2 separate regions of the Homo sapiens genome follow, and region 1 is linked to region 2. The links come from fine-mapping of genetic effects on gene expression. Tissue or cell type: whole blood. Region 2 holds a variant in brackets; the other region holds the start of a gene. All regions are shown on one strand. Distances are between the middles of the regions.

Region 1 (5,386 bases), 110 kb before region 2:
TAAGAGCATTGTACATGAGAATCCACAAAGATATATTCTTTTTGGTGGATCAGCTCTATGTTTCTTTAGTATGTCAGAGTATCATACTGGAAGCTCTCAATGCTAAAATGGTCCTCCTCACATAGAAAGTTTTTTTTTCTTTTTCTTTATAAAAATGGCTCTAAGTCTTTAAATTCTAACTTTTAACCCAGAAACTTGCCATATGTGTAAAATATGATCCCTAAAATAGTGCAACTTTTTGTTTTATATAACACTATCCTATTGATGTACCCATATCCAAATGAATGTTGTCTCTCAATCAAAGCAGTCATCTCAGAAATTGATGAGTGGAAAATGAGAAGCTTTCTTCTAGATTTCCCTTCATATAAAACCACATATGAAAATCAGGCCTATGAGTTCAGCTAAATCTAGTTTTTGGCCGAAGTAGTTATGTCAGTTGGAATTTTTTTGTTTGTAGGTAACACAATTCATCGCCAAAGTACCATATTATTATTTCCCATAACAAGAAACCGAGAAGATAGAGTGAACAAAGTGTAGTAGTTCCAAAAATCCTGTTCTTACCTAATAATGACAGCAAAGGAAGGGAGGAGGAGGACTCCCCTGTAACTCTCCTTTTTTCTTTTCCTTTTTTTTAAATGGTGGGGGGAGGGTTCTTTTACAAATGTCTTCCAAAGGACACTGTCTTCTGTCTCATTAGTCCGGTGGATCACATAGCTATCTAAGGAAGACTGGAAAAGAAATTTTCTTGCATTTTAACTGCCCTCATGGACAAGAAGTGGTTAAGTCTGTCCTCACTGGAAGTAGATTCTTCTCACTAACAAGTACATATCCTCTTTCTTCTAATTCTTATGAATAAATCTGGTGAATAGAAAATTGGTGGTGGCAATGGTGGTGCGGGATTGGGGAAAGAATTGGGTACTAATACTTAACTGGGTACCTATAATTGTGGGCCAGCCCTCTCTGCAGATGAAGAGACTGAGGCTCTACATAAGAAACTTGTATAAGGTAAATTGGCTAGAAAGTAGTGACACTTCCAACACGGACCATCATCTAATTATGATGATGATGAGGGTGATAGTTACACTGGTTAATATTGAGTGCTTACTACACACCAGGCATTGTGCTATCTACTTTATGCCGATTATTTCATTTAATTTTCAAACCTACACAAAGGCAGTAGTCTGTTCTACAGGTGAACTAACTGAGGCTCGAGGACACATATCTAGTAAACATGAGATTAAACTCCAGTGATGCCTCTAGGTCTGGGCATTTCTTTACACTGTTCTGCTTTCCTGTTCTAATGCCCATATGGTCTCCAAGACTACTGCCTCTGGGCTAAGCATTTTGTTAACTTAAGATACTTCATCTGCAAAATGGGGATAATTATACTTCATAATTCCTAATAGTAGTAAAGGTAACAATAAATTTTAAGTGATTAACAATGAAACAACCATAGCAGGACAGCATTATTATTTTTGAATTTACCTCACTAAATTGTAAATTTCATTTATGCCGTTTACCTAACGCTCCTGGACTGAGATTATCCAGGGCAGCAGTTCTTAAATTTTTTGGACTCAGGGCCTCTCTATAATGTTAAAGAATTACTGTGACCTCCAAAGAGCTTATGTTTATGTGGGTTACACCTATCACTACTGCATTGAAATGAAAACTGAGAAATGTTTAAAAACAACAAACGCAAGCTCCCTTAGCTGCCAGTGATGACGTCGTACACAAAGCGTATCCTCCAGGAAACGGTATACTAGTGAGAGAAGGAACGTGAGAAAGACAGACAAGGTGTCCGTATTATTATGAAAATTGTTCTGAGGTCATCGGGATTTCCAGAGGTCCCTAGACCACACTTTATGAGAACTGCTGCCTTAGGGTAAAGATGGGGTGCCAGGAGGTTGGCGATCAGTAGCGTCTGATGAACGAACCATGGGAGCCTGGGGTTGTTCAGATGAGGAAACCAAGAGTTAGGCCGAAATAAGCAGCGCCGGAGCTCCACTGTATTCACGGCCGCTACTGAGGCTTCCCAGCAGCCTCGGCCCTTAGCAGCTGTCCCCTCATCCGCCCCGAGGTACCCTCTTCCCTGGTCCGGTTTTTCAGGGGCCCTCTCTGGCGCTCTCCGCCAGGCTACGGGCGTCCCGGGTGCCCGGAGACAGGCCCCGCCCCGCCGCCGGTCCTCGAACTCCTGGCTGCCAGGCAACCCTGGCGCGTAGCCCGGGCGTCACTGCTCCACCCCGTCAGGCTGAACCATTCCCTTCAGAGACTTTCTCAAGAGGGAAGGAGAAAAGGGAATTTGATGGAACGCCTGAAAGCTGCTCTGCTCCCGTTTTCTCTCCTTAATTTGAACGAACACTTCTTTTCTTCTTCTAGCCAACTGTCTCCTGAAGGGAAACGCAGCGCCTCGCCTCTCCCGCCGGAATGTCCCCCACACCAGTCCAGGGCCGCGAGTGGTTCGGCTCGTCAGGCGGGGCCGCCGGTCGGCGCGGGTTGGCTCTGAGGCGGGGGCGCGCGCCCGACGTGCGCGTAGGGGGCGGGGCCGCGCGCAGAGGGCGGGGAGGTGGGCAAGATGGCGCTTGCCGAGTGATTCTCCTCGAATACCTCCTGCCGGCGCGGAGACACCGGGGCGGGGGTCCTGCCGCAACTACCTCCCTTCCTCCTCTCCCCCGCCCCCGGAGCCTTCATCCTTCCCTTCCCCCCCCACCTCGAGGGGCGGGCCTGGTTCCCGGGACACCATGTCGGACTCTGAGGAGGAGAGCCAGGACCGGCAACTGAAAATCGTCGTGCTGGGGGACGGCGCCTCCGGGAAGGTCAGTCCTCGAGCAGGCCCGCCGTCCCAGGCCTGCAGGAACCCCGGCGGTCCCCGGCCTCCTCCCCGCCGCCCGGCGTCGCCTCGTTACCCCGAGCCCTCGGGCTTCTAGGCCCGGGCCCTTCTGGTTGTGTGGCCTGAGGCCGGACACGAAGTGGGCGCTTGGTGAAGGCCGACGAGAGCTGTCCAGCTCCCCCTTAAAAAAGAGTCACTTCCTAACTCCCCGCCTGGATTGCGAACTCCTGCAAGACTCGGGCCAGCCTTTCAGCTTCCCGCCTCTCAGGACTGGCAGGGATTTGCCAAGGCATCTTAGCTCCTCTTACTTGTAGTCTGGGTCACACTTACTCCTCCCCTCCCACCCCCTTTACCGTTTCTGATGCTTCTACTGCATCGTGAGCTCCCAGGAGCGTAGCTCTGGAATCAGTATTCCCCGGGTGAGAATTGGGGCTCTGCCACTTAGTCGTCGGGTCATTGGAGGGCAAATTGCTAATCAGTTTAAGCTTCATCTGTAAGATGGGTATTGAAAAGGGCCGCCGCAAAGGGAGAAATGTGAAAATACATATTAAATGTGAAAATACACATAAAACCTTTAGAGCACAGTGTCCACTCAGTACACTCTAGTTGCTATTTTAATATCATACCTGTTCATCACCTCTGTTTCCAGCTCAGCACTCGATACAAGCAGTCAGTCAACAAGTGTTTATGGAGCTCCTGTTACGGGTAGGATGCTGAGGGTAGAGCTGCTTGCGTGACAAAAGGGATCCCCTGTTCGAATGAATGAATGCGGGCGTGAGAATATCAGGCAGCGTCAGTCTTATTATCTCCTAGGCAGGGGCTCCTACCCCAAGGCTGTGGAACTCCTGAAATGGAGTAAATACTGCCCGGTACGTGCTCTGGGGAGAGGGTCCATAAGATCTCAGAGGGGTCTATGATCCCTCCACCAGCAAATAGTGAAGAGCCTCTACCCGGATGCCTTCTTTCCCATGCTTCTGTCAAAGGCGCCAACACTTTCTGGGAATATTGCTAAAGTTTATCACCCCTGTACTCCCCTTCCTTATCCCAACCATAGTCTAAAGAAACCCAGGCTTTTATTTCCTGTTTAAGGCTTCACATTTCCCTGTTGCTGGTTGCATTTCGGACCCTGGTTTCTCTGGTGACGACTTCTCTTTGCATCCTCCCTGACAGTTGGCACTGCCCAGATACCTGCTTCTGCCTTTGGTTCTGACATTTGAGTTTCGAGGTCACCTGGGAAAGATGTAAAATTTTATATGCAAAATTTGAAGTATTTTTTTGTTTCTTTCTTGTCTTCTTGGATCCTTTGTTACAGATTTTTAAAGCTGAGGAAAACAATATGCTCTGATTACCTTTAAACGTTGGGGGAAGAAAGGAACTTGGGGTAACTTTTCTTTATAAAGTATATTAATTTTTGTATACTTAGTAAACTTTTCGAATGAATGAATTGCTATAAATAAATCATTGTTTCTAACACCTTTATTCAATAAAAAGTTTGTTAGATTTTTATAGTTTTCTCATCATTTAGATTTTCTTTTGAAGGCCGTCTAAGGTTTTGGCTCTTAAATTTTACTGTATTCAATTCATAACTGATCTTATTTCCCATTTAAAATGATAATGACAACTCATAACAATACATTTGTAAAAAGACACAAAAATTGCTGGTTATCCTATATGCTATCATAATTCTTTAAACTGTTGTTCATTTTTCTAACAGTATTTATTGTACATATATTACTTAGTGAAATTTGTTCATAATTTTGCGTCTGAGTTTTTTATTTAGCCTATCATACATGTTTCCTCTTTGTTGCTAATTTAGTGTGAATAATTATGGTTTTTTATCTCTGTTTAAAATTTTTTCTTGTATAGGACAGGATAATTTTTTCACTTCCATGTTTTTGAATTAGTATTATCATTCTGCTTCAAAGGATAACAGTTAATATTTTTTATGGTGCTCTGACTTAATCTTCATTATCTTGACTAAATAACTTATTTTAAAACTGTAACAGCTTTTTCTAACAGGAACTTCCAGACACAAACATCTGACACCTAACCTTCTTTCATTATTCTTAAATCAAGAATTTTTTTCTCCATACCCTATTCAGTTCTCAAATACTTGGCAGCCACCAACATTCCCATTCTTTTTCCTTTATTGTTCTTTTCTTTGTGAACTCAGCCTCTCTTTCATTCTTACTTGTATCCTGATTTAACTCTTGGCTCTTTTTTCCTGGCATTTGTTTTTCCTGCTCAATCTAACTCTGAGCATTTTTCAACACACTGACAGATGCAATAGAGTATTGAGATGATGACTAACAGTTTCTCCAAGAGAAATTTAGCTCCTCCTTCCAGTATCACGTGTTTCTATTTCTTTCCTTTTCTGATTCATATTTTTTCTTTTATTACATAGTCTCTTAAGAGCTTTTTGAGGCAAAATATTCTTTTTTTTTCTGTCTTTTCAGTGTTTGTAAATGTAGCATGGTTAAAAAATGTTAGTAGAAATTTACCAAGTCAAAAATGTTAGTAGAAATTTTCCAAATCAAAAAATATAAAGATTCAGATAAA
Region 2 (5,386 bases):
ACTGCTGCTACCAGGTCTAACCTCATCCTACTTACCCCATCTGTTCTCATATCTTCTGTCTTCTCTGTGGTTACTATGGGATCTATTCTAGCTAGGGCCAACTTCTCCATTGTGTACTAGTCCCATTTATCTTTGCTGAATCAAGGATATTGCTTTAGCAGTTCTCTCTCTTTCATATGTATTATTTTTTTTCCACCTACTGGATTATTCTTTCAACACAGAAAATATTATGACTTCTTTTATCTTAAAAACAAGAAAACTCTTGATGCCACATTTTTTCTCTAGCTGTTGCCTTATTTCCTTCCTTCACTTTCCAGTGGATGTTTTAAAGAATTGTCTCTAGTTCTTCTTTTGCCAGTTTCTCTTCCAGTTCCAGCAGACTTTTGCCCTCAGTATTTTACCCAAACTGCTATTATTCACGTCATCAATGGCCTCCTTTTTGCTGAATCCAATGGTCAGTACTCAGCCCTCATCTTATTTTATTAAGTAGCAACATAAATAATTGCTGATCACTCTCGTCTCTTTGAAATACTCTCTGCACTTAGCTTCCAGGATACAACGCCTCCTGGTTTTCTTCCTGCTTCACTAACTACTCTGTCAGTCCCCTTGACTAATTTTCTTATGTCTCCAGCCAACTAAGGTTCAGTCCTTTGATAATCTCTTTTTCTACACTTATTCCTAATGGCTTTATTTAGTCTTCTGGCTTTGCTCAGACTTTTCCCCTGAACTGTAGACTCTTATATCCAACTGCCCGCTCAGCATCTCCTCTTAGATGTCTAATAGGCTGCCCAATTTAACATGTTTAGAACTGAGCTCTTGCTATTCCCTCCTCAAATCTCTCACAGTCTTCCTCACTTTAATAAATAGCAGATCTACCAGTTGCTCAGGCCAAAAAAACTTTGGAGCCTTTCTTGACTCCTCTTTTTCTCTCACACCCCACATCTGTCACCAAATCCCCTTGGCTGTACTTTGAAAATATATCCAGAACCTGATGACTGTTTCTTACTTTGTCCACTTCTACCACTTTGGTTCAGCCTCCATAATATTTTACATTAGTTTCTTTGCTGATTCTGTTTTTGTACACTTGGTCTCCTATAGTGAATGTTCAATACAAACAACCAGACTAATGCTGTTAAAATAAAAGTCACATTGGGCCACCCTCCCATGCCTTCCATTTCATTTGGAGTAAACGCCAAAGTCCTTCCAGTAGCCTACCAGATTTTACATGGTTTGTACTCCCTTCATCTCTTTGCTCGTCTTCTTTTATAACCACTCTTTCTCTCCACTCCACCACAGTACTTTTCCTGTTGTTCCTTGACCATTGACCATCAGTGAACTAAAATATGCTTCTTAGGGTACAAGTGGCATAAGGCTATCAGGAATATGTATCCTTTTTTGTTAGAAGTAAAAATTAATAAAGTTTTGATAAATATTCTATAAGCATGTGATGAATAGGGATAAGAATATGGTAGGACATTTATGAAGAAAAGATAAGTTATACTACAGTAAATGTCAGGATTGGAACTCTAGTAATTACAGCAGACCTGACATAAGCTAACTATGTGTGGAAAGGCTATTTATAGAAAAATATTTGTCTATTTTTGTTTAATCGTAATGGCATATATTTTTCCTTTGCTCTGAACTGATAAAATATAGTAAACAGTACCAAGTTGCTTTACTCAAGAAACATGGAGAATTTGCTGGAATGATATGAAAGGCACAGAGAGTATTAAAGTGTTAGAAACTAAGACCTTTTGAGATAGGCCAAAGGTGGCTAAAAGGACCAAGATAAAACCGACAGTGAAAAACTAGGTTGGTAAAGTATAGATTATTTTTATTTTCTTCAGGAATTATGGGAGTTTTTATAGTAGTAAGTAGGATTGTTTTGTTGTTTTTTAAAGTGGTAGCTGTAATCATCATGTTAAATCTTTCATGTGTGTGTTTAGAGAAAATGATCAATTCATTGAATTGCATGGAGTTTTAAATTATGGCTTTATAATTTAAAAATTATTATATTTAAAATGTTGCTACATTTGACAAATAAAGCTATTTTTGGAATCACCTGCTATATCATATTTTTGCAATTATTGCTGTTTATCATTTTTAAGAAAATTCTGTTTATTTGAAGATAACTTAAGCATGCCTCTTTTAAATCATTTAAACCCATTTTTGTTATGTAGGTCTTCCTGTGCTTTCAGAAAGTTGCTGCTGAAATCCTTGGGATCAAATTAAACAAAGCAGAAATAGAACAGTCACAGGTGATTACCTTGAACTTTATATTTAAAAAATTAATGAATTTCTTACAAGGCATTAATTTTCACCCATAAATTCTTTCCCATTTATGCCTTCTGTGTACGTATCTCTAAAAGCTTTGGGAATAGATTGTATGTATGAATCAGTGTTTATTGCAGAAGATGGAGAATGTTAACTTTTTGCCAAATTATGATACCCTTGAAACCTCATTTTGTCTCTTTTGTTGGGAAAAAGATACTAGTATAAGAAAATTTTTATTAGTGGTTAACTAATGAGTTAAGGTGCTGACCACATTGTTTGGCACTTCTTTATTTAAATCCTTTTGGAGCCTCTATTCAATTTTAAAACATCCTTGACTGTAGTGATATTAGTTTTTGATGTTATTTTATTGTCAGTTTAGTAGTGTTATTAATTAGTAAGGATTTCTATGTTTTTTCACTATTCCTAGATAGTTTTCTTAGGCTAAGAAAAAAACATGCATAGCGGCAGCCAAGAAATTTAAAGTACCACTATAATTTCCCACTAATTCATATGTTTGATAGAATGAAAAATCAGAGTAAGAGCCTATAAAGTTATGCTTCAGAAGTGGTTTGGTTAGAAGTAACAAACTAATTACATTTTTGCTCAATTTCTTCCACCCCATTCGCACCCTGTGCAACTAAAAAAGTATAATTATCTTTTCCCATCCTTAAATTTTTCTTGAATTCTTTTAGAGTTAGTTCTGTATCTTTTTCTCATGGTCTCTCTCTCTCTCTGTGTGTGTGTGTGTGTGTGTGTGTGTTTTAAAACAATTGAAGCAAATATTTGAAATTGTTACACTGATATGGCTGTTTCTAAGACTTGATTAAAACATTTGAAACTCTAAAAGTTTGCTAGTTTTAATTCCC[A/G]TCATTCAAAGACATTTGTTTTAGCACTTGGTATGGCCAAATACAGTGCTAAGATACTTTGTGATGTTTAAATAGCTCCCAGACACAGAAAAAGTGGTTACTTGTTTTGGGCCTAGGAGAATATAGGAAAGAGAAGTCACCATGATTTGCTTGATCACACAGACCTTGGATCCCAGAGGTCAAGTAATTTGTTTGCTTTTTAGCTTCTCTGTCTAAATAATGTTTGTCTCTGCTTAGTTAGAGAGTCTATGATTATCATAAGTGATTTATTGGTCATACATTGTAAACTCAGTATAGTGGTGGGTCTAAAAAAGAATTAAAAGACTTTAAAATGTCCCTGCTTTTAGTAAAGAAAATTAATAGGTTATGTGCCAGGGGGACTGTGTTATCTCAGTTATCCTCATAATAACTCCCTGGATCAGGTGAAATTTTATCATTTTATGATCAGGAAGCTGAGACTGTGGAGAGACTCAGTAACTTGATCACTAACCATTAATTGGGCAGTGGTGGAGCCAGAATTTGCACCCAGGTCTCTCTGACACCAATGCCCTTGGTATTTCCACTCTGCCATACTGGGGGAAAGTGTACTGGGCAGTTTGGAGTGGGAAGGGAGAAAATGGCTGAAAGAGGAGCTGGTATGAATAATATACCTGGGTAGAAAAGGTTAGGTTGTATTTTGGAAACAGAAGAGCAGTTTGGTTAAAATAAATGACCATTTGTGTTAGAGTATAAAGAGTTTGAGAACAGATTTTGGGGATTTATGAATGCCAAGTTGATTAATTTTATTAGACCTATAATCATTTTGAGGTAGGGCAATAAATGAAAGCAGTTTTTAGGTAGAATTAATCTAATGGGATATTTTTATATGTCGTTGGATGGGAGGGAGATTGAGGTAAGGAGACTGAGTTACTGCTACCATGTGAAAAAGACCAAAGTCAAGATGGAATGGAAAGGTTGGATGGATGTAAGGGAGATTTTAAAGAAGAACCAATAGGGCTTGTGGAATTATTGGATAAGAGAGGATAGAAGTCTGAGATAACCCTGAGGTTTCTTGCCTGGAGGAATGAAGACAGGAGAAACCCAATGATTGGTTGTCTTTCTGAAAAGGGGAATGGTGGGCTGGTGCTTCACAGGTGAGAGGGCTGCACTGAGGAAGGATTCCTTGTACTGCCTGAGCTGTGCAGTGGTGATCAGATACAAGGAGACCTCTGGAGAAATGAAACAACTGGAGGCAAAATTTGGGGGAAGCTTTATTAACATTAGGTCCCTCATGTTGCAAGATCAACAGGGTTACTATTTTGACTTTAGATATGGGCTTAATATCCTAGTGTGTTTTAAATAAAGAGATATTAGATGTGTTAACTACATAGTTCCCTACCCTCCCTGCACATCTACTTTGTTTATTATGCTTTGAGGTTTAATTCTATCTTCAGTTTGTTGGTGGCATTTACTCTTAATGCATTCATTTGAAGGTGAATTCAAGTTACTGCAGCACTCTTCTATATGTTTGTCAAAATTCTTTGTGTATAGCAAGAATCCTTATTAGTCTTTCTTGATCCTGATGAATTTGGTGTTTTTGCCAATTAAATTATTGATTTTACAATTCATATTTCTCAGTGGAAACATTTTGGCAAGTTCATCTAAAAGACTAAGAAGTGCAGATTATATATATATACACACACACATATATACACACACACACATACATACATACATACATATATATACACACACATACACACTGCATGTGGTTGTTGCGACATTTGAAAGATTACTGGGGGGATTCAAGGGAATGTTTGAAAGTACTTTGTATTATTCTATAGAGAAGGAGTTAAATGGCAGACTCACCAGTCCCATTGATGTTGATGCTCTACTATAATAATTTAGTTTGTGACATAAATATTTACAGTGAGGTTTTAGTCCTAGTTTCATTCACTGACAATTTAAAGAGATTCTGCTAGTTTATTTCTAACCTAGATTGCTCCTATTTGGGAGTTATATAAAATGAGTTATCAACACACTTTGCAAGCTTTGCAAGGAAGAGGAAGAGAGAGAAAAGAAAGTGAATGCAGTTTATTAACACAGTAACCATATTTTGAGGGTCTGTGTAATGCCAGGGGGCCACACTAGAATCTGGGGATACAGAAATGAATAAGAGAAAGTCCCTATCCTCAAGGAGCTCCCAGAATAAGTGGGGCAGCCAAACATTTAAACAATGAACACTATAGATCCATTTTTCACAATTC

The links.
Region 1: it holds the start of RAB28, and the variant in region 2 is fine-mapped to the expression of RAB28 in whole blood (TOPMed, PIP above 0.99).

What each region holds. Positions count from the first base shown.
Region 1 is chr4:13,481,503-13,486,888 of GRCh38, reverse strand. It overlaps RAB28 (RAB28, member RAS oncogene family), which reads left to right and starts at 2,549. Exons shown (of 7, transcript NM_001017979.3): 1 at 2,549-2,813. The coding sequence starts at 2,739. It overlaps LOC105374495 (a long non-coding RNA gene), which reads right to left and starts at 2,440. Exons shown (of 3, transcript XR_925413.1): 1 at 1,935-2,440; 2 at 562-728. RefSeq lists silencers at 2,088-2,147, 2,110-2,404, 2,398-3,017 and enhancers at 2,288-2,407, 1,667-2,574, 2,370-2,664.
Region 2 is chr4:13,373,417-13,378,802 of GRCh38, reverse strand. RAB28 (RAB28, member RAS oncogene family) reads left to right here. Exons shown (of 7, transcript NM_001017979.3): 6 at 2,181-2,258. Among named protein-coding and RNA genes, the nearest start is that of RAB28, 110 kb to the left of the region's middle. The variant A/G (reference allele first, on the strand shown) is at 3,141.